Regions from separate parts of the Homo sapiens genome. Here all the other regions are linked to region 2. Evidence: fine-mapped expression QTL. A gene starts in region 2. Each other region holds a variant in brackets. All regions are shown on one strand. Distances are from middle to middle.

Region 1 (4,207 bases), 24 kb after region 2:
GAGATCACCTTTTGTGAAAGACTCATTTGTCCTTTGGAGTTTTTGTCCTTTTCATTTTCTTTCTTTCCTTCCTTCCCTCCCTACCCTCCCTTTCTCTCTTCCTCTTCCTTCCTTTCTCTGTCTTCCTTCCTTCCTTCCTTTCTTTCTTTCCTTCTCTTTTTTCTTTTATTTGACAGAGTTTCACTCTTGTTGCCCAGGCTGGAGTGCAGTGGCACAATCTCAGCACACTGCAACCTCCGGCTCCTAGGTTCAAGTGATGCTCCTGCCTCAACCTCCCAAGTAGCTGAGATTACAGGCGCCCACCACCATGCACAGCTAGTTTTTGTGTTTTTAGTAGAGACGGGGTTTCACCATGTTGGCCAGGCTGGTCACAAAGTCCTGACCTCAGAGGATCAACCTTCCTTGGCCTCCCAAAGTGCTGGGATTACAGGCATGAGCCACTGTGCCTGGCCTCCTTTTCATTTATCGCTTTCCTTCCTTCTTTCCTTCCTTCCTTCCTTCCTTCCGTTGCTCTCTCTCTGTCTCTCTCTCTCTGTCACCCAGGCTGGAGTGCAGTGGTGCAATCATAGCTCACTGCAGCCTTGACCTCCTGGGCTCAAGTGATCTTCTTGCCTCAGCCTCTCGAATTGATGGGACTACAGGCACCTGCCACCATGTCCAGCTAATTTTTTGTAGAGACAGGAGTCTTGCTATGTTTTCCAGGCTGGTGTTGAACTCCTGGACTCAAGTGATCCTCCCACCTTGGCCTCCCAAAGTGCTGGGATGACAGTCATGAGTCACCCCACCTGGACCCACATATAACTTTTTTTCTTTTTTCTTTTTTTGAGACAGTCTCACTCTGTCATCCAGGCTGGAGTGCAATGGCACAATCCTGGCTCACTACAACCTCTGCCTCCTGGGTTCAAGGGATTCTCATGCCTCAGCCTCCAGAATAGCTGGACCACAGGTGCGTGCCACCACACCTGGCTAATTTTTGTATTTTTAGTAGAGACAGGGTTTTGCCATGTTGGCCAGGCTGTTCTTGAACTCCTGACCTCAAGTGATCTGCCAGCCTCCACCTCCCAAAGTGCTGGGATGACAGGCCACTGTGCCGAGCCCCTCACATATAACTTTTGACTCCTCAAAACTTAACTACTAGGTTGGGCTCGGTGGTTCACACCTGTCATCCCAGCACTTTGGGAGGCTGAGGCAGGAGGAATGCTTGAGTCCAGGAGTTCAATACCAGCCTGGACAACATAGCAAGACTCCATCTCTAAAAAAACTAAAAATTAGCTGGCCATGGTGGTGCATACCTGTGGTCCCAGCTACTCAAGAGCCTGAGGTGGGAAGATCACCTGAGCCCAGGAAGTCGAGGCTGCAGTCAGCCATGTTTACACCACTGCACTCCAGCCTAAGTGACGGGATAAAACCCCATCTCTAACAAAACAAAAACAAAAACAAAAACAAAAACAAAAAAGGCTGGGCGCAGTGGCTCACACCTGTAATCCCTAGCACTTTGGGAGGCCGAGGCGGGCAGATCACCTGAAGCCGGGAGTTGGAGACCAGCCTGACCAACATGGAGAAACCCTATCTCTACTAAAAATACAAAATTAGCCAGGCGTGGTGGCGCATGCCTGTAATACCAGCAACTTGGGAGGCCAAGGCAGGAGAATCACTTGAACCCAGGTGGTGGAGGTTGCAGTGAGCCAAGATCGCGCCATTGCACTCCAGCCTGGGCAGCAAGAACAAAACTCTGCCTCAAAAAAAAAAAAAAAAAAAAAAAAGAAAAGAAAAAAAGAAACTATCAGAACGTCCATCAATGAGGGAGTAGAGAAATGAAAGGAGAACGAAATGTAATGGTAAGGTAATGGAATATTAAACAGGAGTGAAAAGGAATAAGTAACTCTCCCTGTCTGTGTGTCTCTCTTTCTCTCTCTTGCCTTGCTCTCACTCTCACTCTCTCCAGCTCTACTCTATGTCAATATAAATGTATCTTAATGTGGTGCTGTTTCAAAAAGAAATTCAAGTTGTGCAATGTTAGTTTAGTGTGAT[A/G]CTGTTTATATAAATTTGAAACATAATAGCACTCTGGGTTGCTTATGGATACAATTCCACTTAAAAACAGATACAGATTAAGGAAGTAATGGCCTTTTTTTTTTTTTTTCCCCTGGGTACTTGTAGGTTTCAAATGTGTCTCCCTGCAGGGACCAAAGAGAGCAGGTCACTATAGGTCAGTGGCCAGGGGAGTCCAGGGGTCAGAGTGGGATGTGACTGAATGATCAGTATAGCCAAGGGATCAGTATGACTGAGGTAGCCAGAGAGACCACGTAGAAGGTAGACTTTTTATTTTTCTTTTGAGACAAGGTCCCACTCTGTTGCCCAGGCTGGAGTGTAGTGGCATGATCATAGCTCACTGCAGCCTCAATTTCCCAGGCTCAAGCCAGCTTCCCACCTCAGCCTTCCAAGTAGCTGGGACTACAGGTGTGCGCCACCATGCCTGGCGAATTTTTCTTTTCTTCCTTTTTAGAGAGAGTTTCCTGCTATGTTGCCCAGGCTGCAGGCTGGTCTCAAACTCCTGGGCTCCCAAAATGTTGGGATTACAGGCGTGAGCCATTGTGGCTGGTGGAAGGTAGCTTTTTTTCTTTTCTTTTCTTTTGCCAGAATCTCACTTTGTCTCCAAGGCTAGAGTGCAGTGGCATGAGCTCAGCTTACTGCAACCTCCGCCTCCCAGGTTCAAGCGATTCTTTTGCCTCAGCCTCCTGAGTAGCTGGAATTACAGGCATGGGCCACCGTATCCAGCTAATTTTTGTATTTTTAGTAGAGATGGGGTTTCACCTTGTTGGCCAGGCTGGTCTTGAACTCCTGACCTCAGGTGATCCTCTTGCCTCGTCCTCCCAAAGTGCTGGGATTACAGGCGTGAGCCACTGCCCAGGGCCGGAAGTTAGCTTTGATGCACCCATTTGTCCTGGAGCCCCAGGAACAAGGTGTGCTCTACCAGAAAGAGTGCAGATGGGATGTGGATTCTGGAAATCATATGTAGGATTTGCAACCTCGTGCATGGTTCTGAGTATCTGTAGCTTGCAGCAGGTCTAGATATGCCAACCCTTGATTCAGAGCTCAAAAGTCATCAGGGTCTTATGGGCCAGCTGAGGACAGCCAGGGGTCAGGCACCAGGATTTTCTTTTTTTTTTTTGCATTAAATCAATTTTTTAGGCTGGATGCAGCACCTCATACCTGTAATCCCAGCACTTTGGGAGGCCGAGGCGGCATTGCTTGAACCTAGGAGTTGGAGTCCAGCCTGGGCAATGTAGTGAGACCCTATCTATAAAAAAAAAAATTAAAATCTGGCTGGGCGCTGTGGCTCATGCCTGTAACGCCAGCACTTTGAGAGGCCGAGTCCAGCGGATCACATAAGGTCAGGATTTCAAGAGCAGCCCGGCCAACGTGGGGAAACCCCATCTCTATCAAAAATACAAAAATGACCTAGGTATGGTGGCGCATGCCTGTAATACCAGCTACTTGGGAGGCTGAGGCATAAGAATCACTTGAATCTGGGAGGCAGAGGTTGCAGTGAGCTGAGATCACACTACTGCACTCCAGCCTGGGCGACAGAGCAAGACTGTCTCAAAAAAAAAAAAAAAAAAAAAAAAAGAAAAAAAAAAAAAGAAAAGAAAAAGAAAAAGAAAAAGAAAAAAAAAAAGAAAAAAAAAATGCTGGATGGGGTGGCTCATGCCTGTAATCCCAGAACTTTGCGAGGCTGATGCAGGTGGATCACCTGAGGTCAGGAGTTTGAGACCAGCCTGGCCAATGTGGTGAAACCCCGTCTCTATTAAAAATACAAAAATTAGCCAGGCATGGTGGCGCACACCTGTGGTTCCAGGTCCTCGGGGGGCTGAGGCAGGAGAATTGCTTGAACCCAGGGGATGGAGGTTGCAGTGAGCCGAGATCCACTGCACTCCAGCCTGGGTGACAGAGCGAGACTCTGTCTCAAATAAAAAAAAAGAAAGAAAGAAAGAAAGAAAAAGAACAACTTCATCACCCCGTAAAATTCCCTTACACTGCCCGTTAGGAGTCACATCCTTCCTTCCTTCTCCTTGACAACCACTGATCGGCTCTCTGTCGCCATAATTTAGCCTTTCCGGGACTGTTGTATAAATGGAATCAGTCACACACTGGATAGCCTTGTGAGACTGGGTTCTTTCTTTCTTTTCTTTTTTTTTTTTGGATGGAG
Region 2 (4,207 bases):
TTTTTTGGAGATAGTCTCACTTTGTTGCCCAGGCTGGAGTGCAGTGGCGCGATCTCGGCTCACTGCAAATTCTGCCTCCCAGGTTCAAGAGATTCTCCTGCCTCAGTCTCCCATGCAGCTGAGATTACAGGTACATGCCACCACGCCCGGCTAATTTTTGTATTTCTAGTAGAGATGGGGTTTCACCATGTTGGCCAGGCTGCTCTCGAACTCCTGACCTTAGGTGATCTGCCTGCCTCAGCTTCCCAAAGTGCTGGGATTACAGGCGTGAGCCACCACGCCCAGCCCCTCCGTGATATTTTAATAGCCTCCAGCTCTGTGATATTCTCGTGATATTTTAATAGCCTGTTTAGCACGTATTCACAACCAGCCAGGCACTGTGTTCAGCTCTTTACCTATAGGTCATGACTGCTATTATCCCATTTTACAGGTGGAGAAACTGAAGCAGGAAGTGGTGAAGTCAGTAGCCCGGAGGCCCTCAACTCAAAGTGGCAGGACAGGGCTGGGGGGTGGTCAGGCTCAAGCCCAGCCAGTCGGAAAGGGAGAAGCTTGTGGTGCTCAGAGAAGGGGACAGGGCAGCGAGCTCCCAAGGCACCTGCCTTTCTGTGCCATCCCACGGGTGGGAGGAGGGAACCTGGGCCCACTTCTGCTGCCAACTACAGGCATCCCAGTGGCTCCTGAGCCAAGACATTCTGTGCCACGCACTGGGTCAACCGCTTTATTCAACCTGCAGACAGCCCTGGGTCAGGAGGTGGACACTGTTGTGAATTTCTCAGAGGAGAAATGGAAGCCCATACATCCCCCTGAACTCCCACCGGGCGTTAGAACCCTCTCCGGTTCCTTAGGGGTGTGGCTGCCACCGAGATCTGCCTAGCCTCGGCTTTCATCGATCCATGAACACTCCCAGGCTCAGATACTACTGACCCATTTTACAGATGGGTAAACTGAAGCTCAGAAACCTTTCCCTGGGGGCCCTACAGCCAGTTCAACGACCAAGGCCGCCCCCCACCCCCCACACCCCAGGCTCAAAGTACCTCTGCTGGCAGTGGGTGAGCTGGAAAAACAGGTAAGGAAAGTCCTCAATGCCTCTTCCTCCACGCCTGGCTGGGCCTGCTGGGGCCCAGGTGCACTGAATGAGGCTTCTAATCAGTCCCCCAGCTCCACTTCTGTGTTTATTCACAGCAGCTGCTCCTGGAAGGCAGACCCATTTGAGGCTGGGGGAGGCCGAGGGCTTCAAAGACAATTCCACAGTCCAGGAACCCTATCCCCATATAACAGACCCAGGTCGCCCCAGTGGGGTCACCCTGGCCTCTGCGCTCAGATGCCTGAGACCTTGCCTGAGCTCAGACTGGAGTCGATGGGAGCATTCCCCCATCTGGTAGGTTTTGCAAACCACAACAGCCTCTCCCCCTGCCCACCTTCCTGTGTCCCCCAGAGCAGCTTCTCCTCAAGTCTCCCAACCCAGCAATGAAAGCCTCTTCTATATACTCCTAACTACCCAGGAGAAACATCGGTCCCCCACGCTCCACTTGCAAACAGACAGAATTAGACGATGTTACTCTGCCAAAGCGAATTTTCAGTTCACCCACTTCCTATCACACCTTCCAGCCAGGTCAAGCCAGAAGCCCCCTTCCAAGTATCCCCATCTCTCCTACCCACAGCGGCTACGGGATGTTCTTAAGACACAATCCGATCACGCCATGCACCTGCTGTTCCAAGCCTCCCTGGTCCCCACCGCCCCGAGAACGGGTTCCACACTCTCCTCGCCGCTTCCCAGGCCCCGGCCAACCTCTCTCCACCTCAGACCCTCCCTCTCCGCGTTTCAGCCAGGCTGGCCTCTTTTCTGCTCCGCACACACTCCCGGCTAGGCCCTGGGCCTAAAAAGCCCTCGCTGGCTGGTCCAACCAGGCCAAATGACATTATCCCCGCCTGGGCACCTCCACCTCACCCCGGCCGCCTGATGGGTTAGCTCGGGCTTGGAATGACGTGTTTAAGCGGTTCTCAGAAGCCGTCTACGCGGCCGGGCTGCGGACTCCGAGGCCAGGGCCCCAGCTGCGTCCCCAGCCCTGGCACGTCGGGGAAACGGGGCGCTCCCCCGGCTCACACATCCGGATTCCCCCGCGTCACGAGGCCAGGATCGCCCCTACTCGCTCCAGCCCGTTTCACAGCCGCGTCCTCGGGCACCCGTTGCGCCCCGGCCCTCGTGGGGGAGCGCGGATAGCTCGGGGAGACGGCCATGATGGGAAGCCCCGAGGGGGACAGTCCCCGGCGGGGTGATGGGGGCTGGAGCCCAGCTGCGAGTGGGGGCCGGGCTGGGGCCGCCATGGCCGCGGAGGCGGGGCCGGGGACCGCCGTGAGGGTGGCGTTCGGGGCGGTGTTCGCGGCGCGGGGTGCTCGCTTACCTGGGGGTGCAGGCGGCCGGGCGCACCGAGGGCCGGCGGCGGGGCTGGGGACGGCGCGCCTAGCGGGCTACCCGGAGCAGCTGCAGACACGCGCCGCCCGCCCCAGGCAGCCGGACTCTGCTCCTGGCCGGGCCTCGGCCCCCAGCAGGGGAAAAAAGGCTTGAGTGGGGGGAGCCCGGGGCGGGGCCGTGGGGGCGGGGCCTGGGCGGGGCACGCGCCCCGGAACGGTGGGGCCTGGCGCGGGGCTGGGGCCCTGGAGAGGCGGGGCCTGGCGCGGGGCGGGGGACTTGGAGGGGCAGGGCCTGGAGCGGGCGCCGGGTCCTCCAGGCGCTTGCCCCCCTCGACGCAACTAGGCCTCTCCCTGGCCCCCGACCCCGCACCCGCACCCCATCCCCGCCCCCGTCCCCGCCCCCCCATTCTCGCCCCCGCCCCCGTTCCCGCTCCGCCCATCTCTGCCCCGCGGCGCGCCTGGCCCGGGTCCAGCCTAGCGTTTCTAGTCTGCGCCTTATCTCTCCCCTTTGAACCCAGTATTGTCCGCTGCGCGCTCCGTCCGGCCCCGGCTTCACCCCTGTTCGCTGTCTGTCTCCCCGGCCCCCTCCCAGGTCCCCTCTTCTGCCCGAGATGCTCTGGCTCTGCTCATCTGTCCACACCCCCACACTCCCGGGGCGCCCTGAGCCTCTGGGGCGCGCAGTTGGATGGTGCACAGGGGAGGCCCAGATTTCTCCAGGCCTCAGCGGCCACCCTGGGTACCCCGAGTCTGGGGCCCTGTTGGAGGGCCAGTCCAGGGGTTCGCCCGAGGCGCGCGCGGGGGCCAACCGAGGCGGTGAGGGCACCGGGCAAAGGCTGCGATTTGGTGGGGTGCAGGGGTCAGGCGACAGAGCTGGGGAGATAAGATGGGAGATAGGCCGGGTGGGTGGTGGCGCAGCCCTGGTTTTGGCTGAGGGCAGCAGCAGTGGGGGCTGGGTCCCCCGCTTGCCTGGTAGAACCGAAAATGACCCAGTCTCAGCAGCGCGCAGGGGCAGGGAGCCTGGGCGATCCCTGAACAGAGGACAGCCCCAGGGGTTTTCATAGTCGCTGGCCCACCGCATGTACTCTGGGCAAGTGGCTTCGCCTTTGGACAATAAGCCTCTGTAAAATGGGGATAATAAACCTTTCTCTGACTCAGCTCAGCAGACCCAAGACCCATGGGGTGAAGTTGGGGCCTCCCTGCCACAGGGCCCTAGGCAAGCTGAGATTTGATTTCCTCACACAGACAGGGGCGCGGGGGGCGGGGCGGTCAGGGAGGCAGGAGACCTCTGTTGCAAGTGTGGAAGAACCTGTCCCTCCAAGTTCAGACTCCTGGCGTTTGCACTTGGCCTTCCCTCTGCTACACTGTTTCTCTTTTCTTTTTTCTTTTTCTTTTTTTTTTTTTGAGACGGAGTCTTGCATTGTGGCCCGGGCTGGACTGCAATGGCATGATCTCGGCTCACTGCAACTTCTGCATCCTGGTTTCATTCGATTCTCCTGCCTCAGCCTCCCGAGTAGCTAGGATTACAGGCGCCCACAACACCCGGCTAATTTATATATATATATATTTTTTTTTTTGGAGAGACGGGGGTTTCACAATGTTGGCCAGACTGATCTCAAACTCCTGACCTCGTGATCCACCAGCCTTGGCTTCCCAAAGTGCTGGGATTACAGGCGTGAGCCAGCATGCCCGACCTTCTCTTTTCTTTTTTTAAAAAAATCTGTTAGAGGCTGGGTGCGGTGGCTCACACCTGTAATCCCAGCACTTTGGGAGGCTGAGGCGGGTGGATCACCTGAGG
Region 3 (4,207 bases), 29 kb after region 2:
AGGCTCTTTCTCTGTCATCCAGGCTGGAGTGCAGTGGCACCATCACAGTTCACTGCAGTGTCGACCTCTCCAGCTCAAGCCATCCCCCTGCCTCAGCCTCCCTGAGTAGCTGGGATTACAGGTGCACCATCATGCCTGGATAATTAAAAAATTTTTTTAGGCTGGTCACAGTGGCTTACACCTGTAATTCCAGCACTTTGGGAGGCCAAGGTGGGCAGATCACTTGAGGTCAGGAGTTCGAGACCAGCCTGGCAAACTTGTTGGAACCCTGTTTCTACTAAAAATTCAAAAATTAGCCGGGCGTGGTGGCACGCACTTGTAGTCCCAGCTACTCAGGAGGCTGAGGCAGAATTGCTTGAACCTGGGAAGCGGAGGCTGCACTGAGCTAAGATAGCACTACTGCACTCCAGCCTGGGTGACAAGAGTGAGATTCTGTGTTAGAAGAAAAGAAAAGAAAAAATATATTGTAATTTAAATTAATTTATTTAGAGACATGGTCTTTCTCTGTCCCCCAGTCTGACCTGGAACTCCTAGGCTCAAGCAATCCTTCCACTTCAGCCTCCTGAGTATCTGGGACCACAGGCTTGTGCCACTGTGCCCAGCAAGAGCTCATTTATTTTAATTAATGAGTTCCCATTGTCTGAAAGTACCACTGTTTATTTATTCATTCAACTCCCGAAGGGCATCTTGGTTGCTTCCAAGTTTTATGCAATTATGAATAATACTGCTGTAAACATCCGTGTGCAGGTTTTGTTTTGTTTTGTTTTTTTGGTTTTGAGACAGAGTCTCACTCTCTCGCCCAGGCTGGAGTGCAGTGGCGCCATCTCGGCTCACTGCAAGCTCTGCCTCCTGGGTTCACGCCATTCTCCTGCCTCAGCCTCCCGAGTAGCTGGTACTACAGGCACCTGCCACCATGCCCGGCTAATTTTTTGTATATTTAGTAGAGACAGGGTTTCACCGTGTTAGCCAGGATGGTCTCGATCTCCTGACTTCGTGATCCTCCCGCCTCGGCCTCCCAAAGTGCTGGGATTACAGGCATGAGCCACCGCACCCGGCCAGTTTGTTTTTTTTTTTTTGAGTCGGAGTCTCCCTGTGTCGCCCAGGCTGGAGTGCAGTGGTGTGATCTCGGCTCACTGCAACCTCTGCCTCACGGGTTCAAGTGATTCTCCTGCCTCAGCCTCCTGAGTAGCTGGGACTACAGGCACATGCCACCACGCGCAGCTAATTTTTGTATTTTTAGTAGAGACAGGGTTTCACCATATTGGCCAGGCTGGTCTTGAACTCCTGACCTCGTGATCTGCCCGCCTCGGTCTCCCAAAGTGTTGGGATTACGGGTATGAGCCACTGCACCTGGCCCATGTGCGGGTTTTCTTGTAGACATGAGCTTTCAACTCGTTTGGGTAAATATCTAGGAGTGAAATTAATTGGTTATATGGTAAGAGTATGTTTAGTTTTGTAAGAAGCTGTCACACTGTCTTCTAGAGTGGCTGTACTGTTTGGCATTTCTCTCAGCAAAGAGTGAGATTTCCTGTTGCTATATAGGAAACATCTTTTTTTTTTTTTTTTTTTTTTGAGTCAGTCTTGCTTTGTCACCCAGGGTGGAGCACAGCGGTGTAATCTCAGCTTATTGCAACCTCCACTTCCCGGACTCAAGCACTTCTCATGCCTCACCCTCCCGAGTAGCTGGCATTACAGGCATGCACCACCACGCCCGGCTAATTTTTGTATTTTTAGTAGAGATGGGGTTTCACCATGTTGCCCAGGCTGATCTCGAACTCCTGGCCTCAAGTGATCCACCCACCTCGGCTCGCAAAGTGCTGGGATTACAGGCGTGAGCCACCACTCCTGGCCATATAGGCAACAAAATTTTTAATTACGGCAACATCTAGAAAAAAATGTTTTATCCTATATCCTGCATTTTTCTTTTTCTTTCTTTTTTTTTTTTTTTTGAGATGGAGTCTCACTCTGTCACCCAGGCTGGAGTGCAATGGTGCCATCTCGGCTCACTGCAACCTCTGCCTCCCAGGTTCAAGCAATTCTCCTGCCTCAGCCTCCCAAATAGCTGGGATTACAGGCTTGTGCCACCACACTCTGCTAATTTTTTGTATTTTTAGTAGATATGGGGTTTCACCATGTTGGCCAGGCTGGCCTTGGACACCTTGCCTCAAGTGATCCGCCTGCTTTGGCCTCCCAATATCCTGCTTTTTTCTGTAAAAA[T/C]AGTATGAAAATATTTTACATATTGTTAAAGAAAATCTACAAACATTTTTCATAACTGCATATTGGATCTTATCACGTGATTGTACACAGCGTACCGGATACCTCAGGCTTTGCACTAACTGAATATTAAAATAACAATAACAGAAGCATTGTTATATGTAAATATTTGCCTATTTCTCATATTTCTTTCTCATGGATTCCCAGCAGTGGAAATACTGGCTGGAAAAAGGCAAACACGTTATGATTCTTGGTACATGTTGCCAAGAGCTCACCAGAAGCCTGAAATTTATGCTAAAAGCAGCAAGCTGGCCGGGCACAGTCGCTCATGCCTGTAATCCCAGCACTTTGGGAGGCTGAGGAGGGTGGATCACCTGAGGCCAGGAGTTTGAGACCAGCCTGGCCAACATGGCAAAACCCCATCTCTACTAAAAATACAAAAATGAGCTGGGCATGGTGGTGTGTGTCTGTAATCCTGGCTACTAGGGAGGCTGAGACAGGAGAATCACTTGAACCTGGGAGGCAGAGGTTGCAGTGAGCCGAAATTACGCCACTGCACTCCAGCCTGGACGACAAAGCAAAACTCTGTCAAAAAAAAAAAAAAAAAAAAAAAAGCTGCAAGCTGGGGTAAGAGTCTTCAGGAAAAAAAAAAAAAGGTTAGATTAAAATAGACAAAAGATGTCTCATTCTCTTTTCTTTTTTAGAGATAGAGTCTTACTGTGTTGCCCAGGCTGGGGTGCAGTGGAACTATCATAGCTCACAGAAGCCTCAGCCTCCTGGGTTCAAGTGATCCTCCCACCTCAGCTTCCCAAGTAGGTGGGATTACAGGCATGTGCGACCATACCCAGCTAATTTTTATTTTTTGCAGAGATGTGGTCTCACTACATTGCCCAAGTTGGTCTCAAACTCCTGGGCTCAAGTGATTCTCTCACCTTGGCCTCCCAAAGTGCTGGGATTACAGGCATGAGCCACAGCACCTGGCTAAGAATTCCTCTTTAAGTTTTAAAGAGAGACAACTCAGTACATTGCTTGACCATTTTGCCCTCTGCTCTTAAGCTTAGAAAATGCTTTCACATCTCAGAGATTTAAAATCCATTTCCAGCTGGGCACAGTGGCTCACGTCTGTAATCTCAGTACTCTGAGAGGCCAAGGCAGGCAAATCACTAGAGACCAGGAGTTTGAGACCAGCCTGGCCAACATGGTGAAACCCCGTCTCTACTAAAAAGACAAAAATTAGCTGGGCAAGGTGGCACATGCCTGTAATCGCAGCTACTCGGGAGGCTGAGGCAGGAGAATCGCTTGAACCCAGGAGGCAGATGTTGCAGTGAGCCGAGATTGTGCCACTGCACTCCAGCCTGGGCAATAGAGTGACACTCCATCTAACATAATAATAAATAAATCCAAAGAACTTAGTAAACTCCTTTGGTGTCACAAAGCTGTTTGATGACAGAATCAGTATTATAACCTGGAAGTTCAAACTCTGGCTTGGCGCTTTTTCTTATTTTATAGCTAGTCTTTGAGGTAAGATTTGTACTGTTAATTCATTCTGCCTACCCATCCACACACAAAAAATTATGAGGTCAAAAATAAATAATTTGAAATAGAGCAAAAGTAGAGGAAGTAGTGAAGGAAGAAAGGATTCTGGAATTCCATAAAAGTTTTGTGTTTTCTTTGTTTGTTTGTTTTTTGAGATGGAGTCTCACTCTGTCACCTAGGCTGGAGTGCAATGGCGCAATCTCGGCTCACTGCAACCTCTGTCTGCCTCCTGGGTTCAAGCGATTCTCCTGCCTCAGCAACCTGTGTAGCTGGGATTACAGGCGCCTGCCACCATATCTGGCTAATTTTTGTATTTTTAGTACAGACAGGGTTTCACCATGTTGGCCAGGCTGGTCTCAAACTCCTGACCTCAAATGATCCACCCGCCTCGGCCTCCTAAAGTTCTGGGATTCCAGGCGTGAGACACCGCGCCTGGCCTGTTTCTTTTCTTTTCTTT

The links. PIP is the estimated chance that this variant, and not a neighbour inherited with it, causes the effect. A credible set is the group of variants that fine-mapping cannot tell apart.
Region 1: its variant is the best candidate, but not a certain one, in a credible set for the expression of CERS4 in nasal epithelium (TOPMed, PIP 0.50).
Region 3: its variant is the best candidate, but not a certain one, in a credible set for the expression of CERS4 in lung (GTEx, PIP 0.82).

What each region holds. Positions count from the first base shown.
Region 1 is chr19:8,183,551-8,187,757 of GRCh38, reverse strand. No RefSeq gene overlaps it. Among named protein-coding and RNA genes, the nearest start is that of CERS4, 24 kb to the left of the region's middle. The variant A/G (reference allele first, on the strand shown) is at 2,032.
Region 2 is chr19:8,207,690-8,211,896 of GRCh38, reverse strand. CERS4 (ceramide synthase 4) reads right to left here and starts at 2,527. Exons shown (of 12, transcript NM_024552.3): 1 at 2,403-2,527; 2 at 1,035-1,191. RefSeq lists a silencer at 1,927-2,846.
Region 3 is chr19:8,178,438-8,182,644 of GRCh38, reverse strand. No RefSeq gene overlaps it. Among named protein-coding and RNA genes, the nearest start is that of CERS4, 29 kb to the left of the region's middle. The variant T/C (reference allele first, on the strand shown) is at 2,218.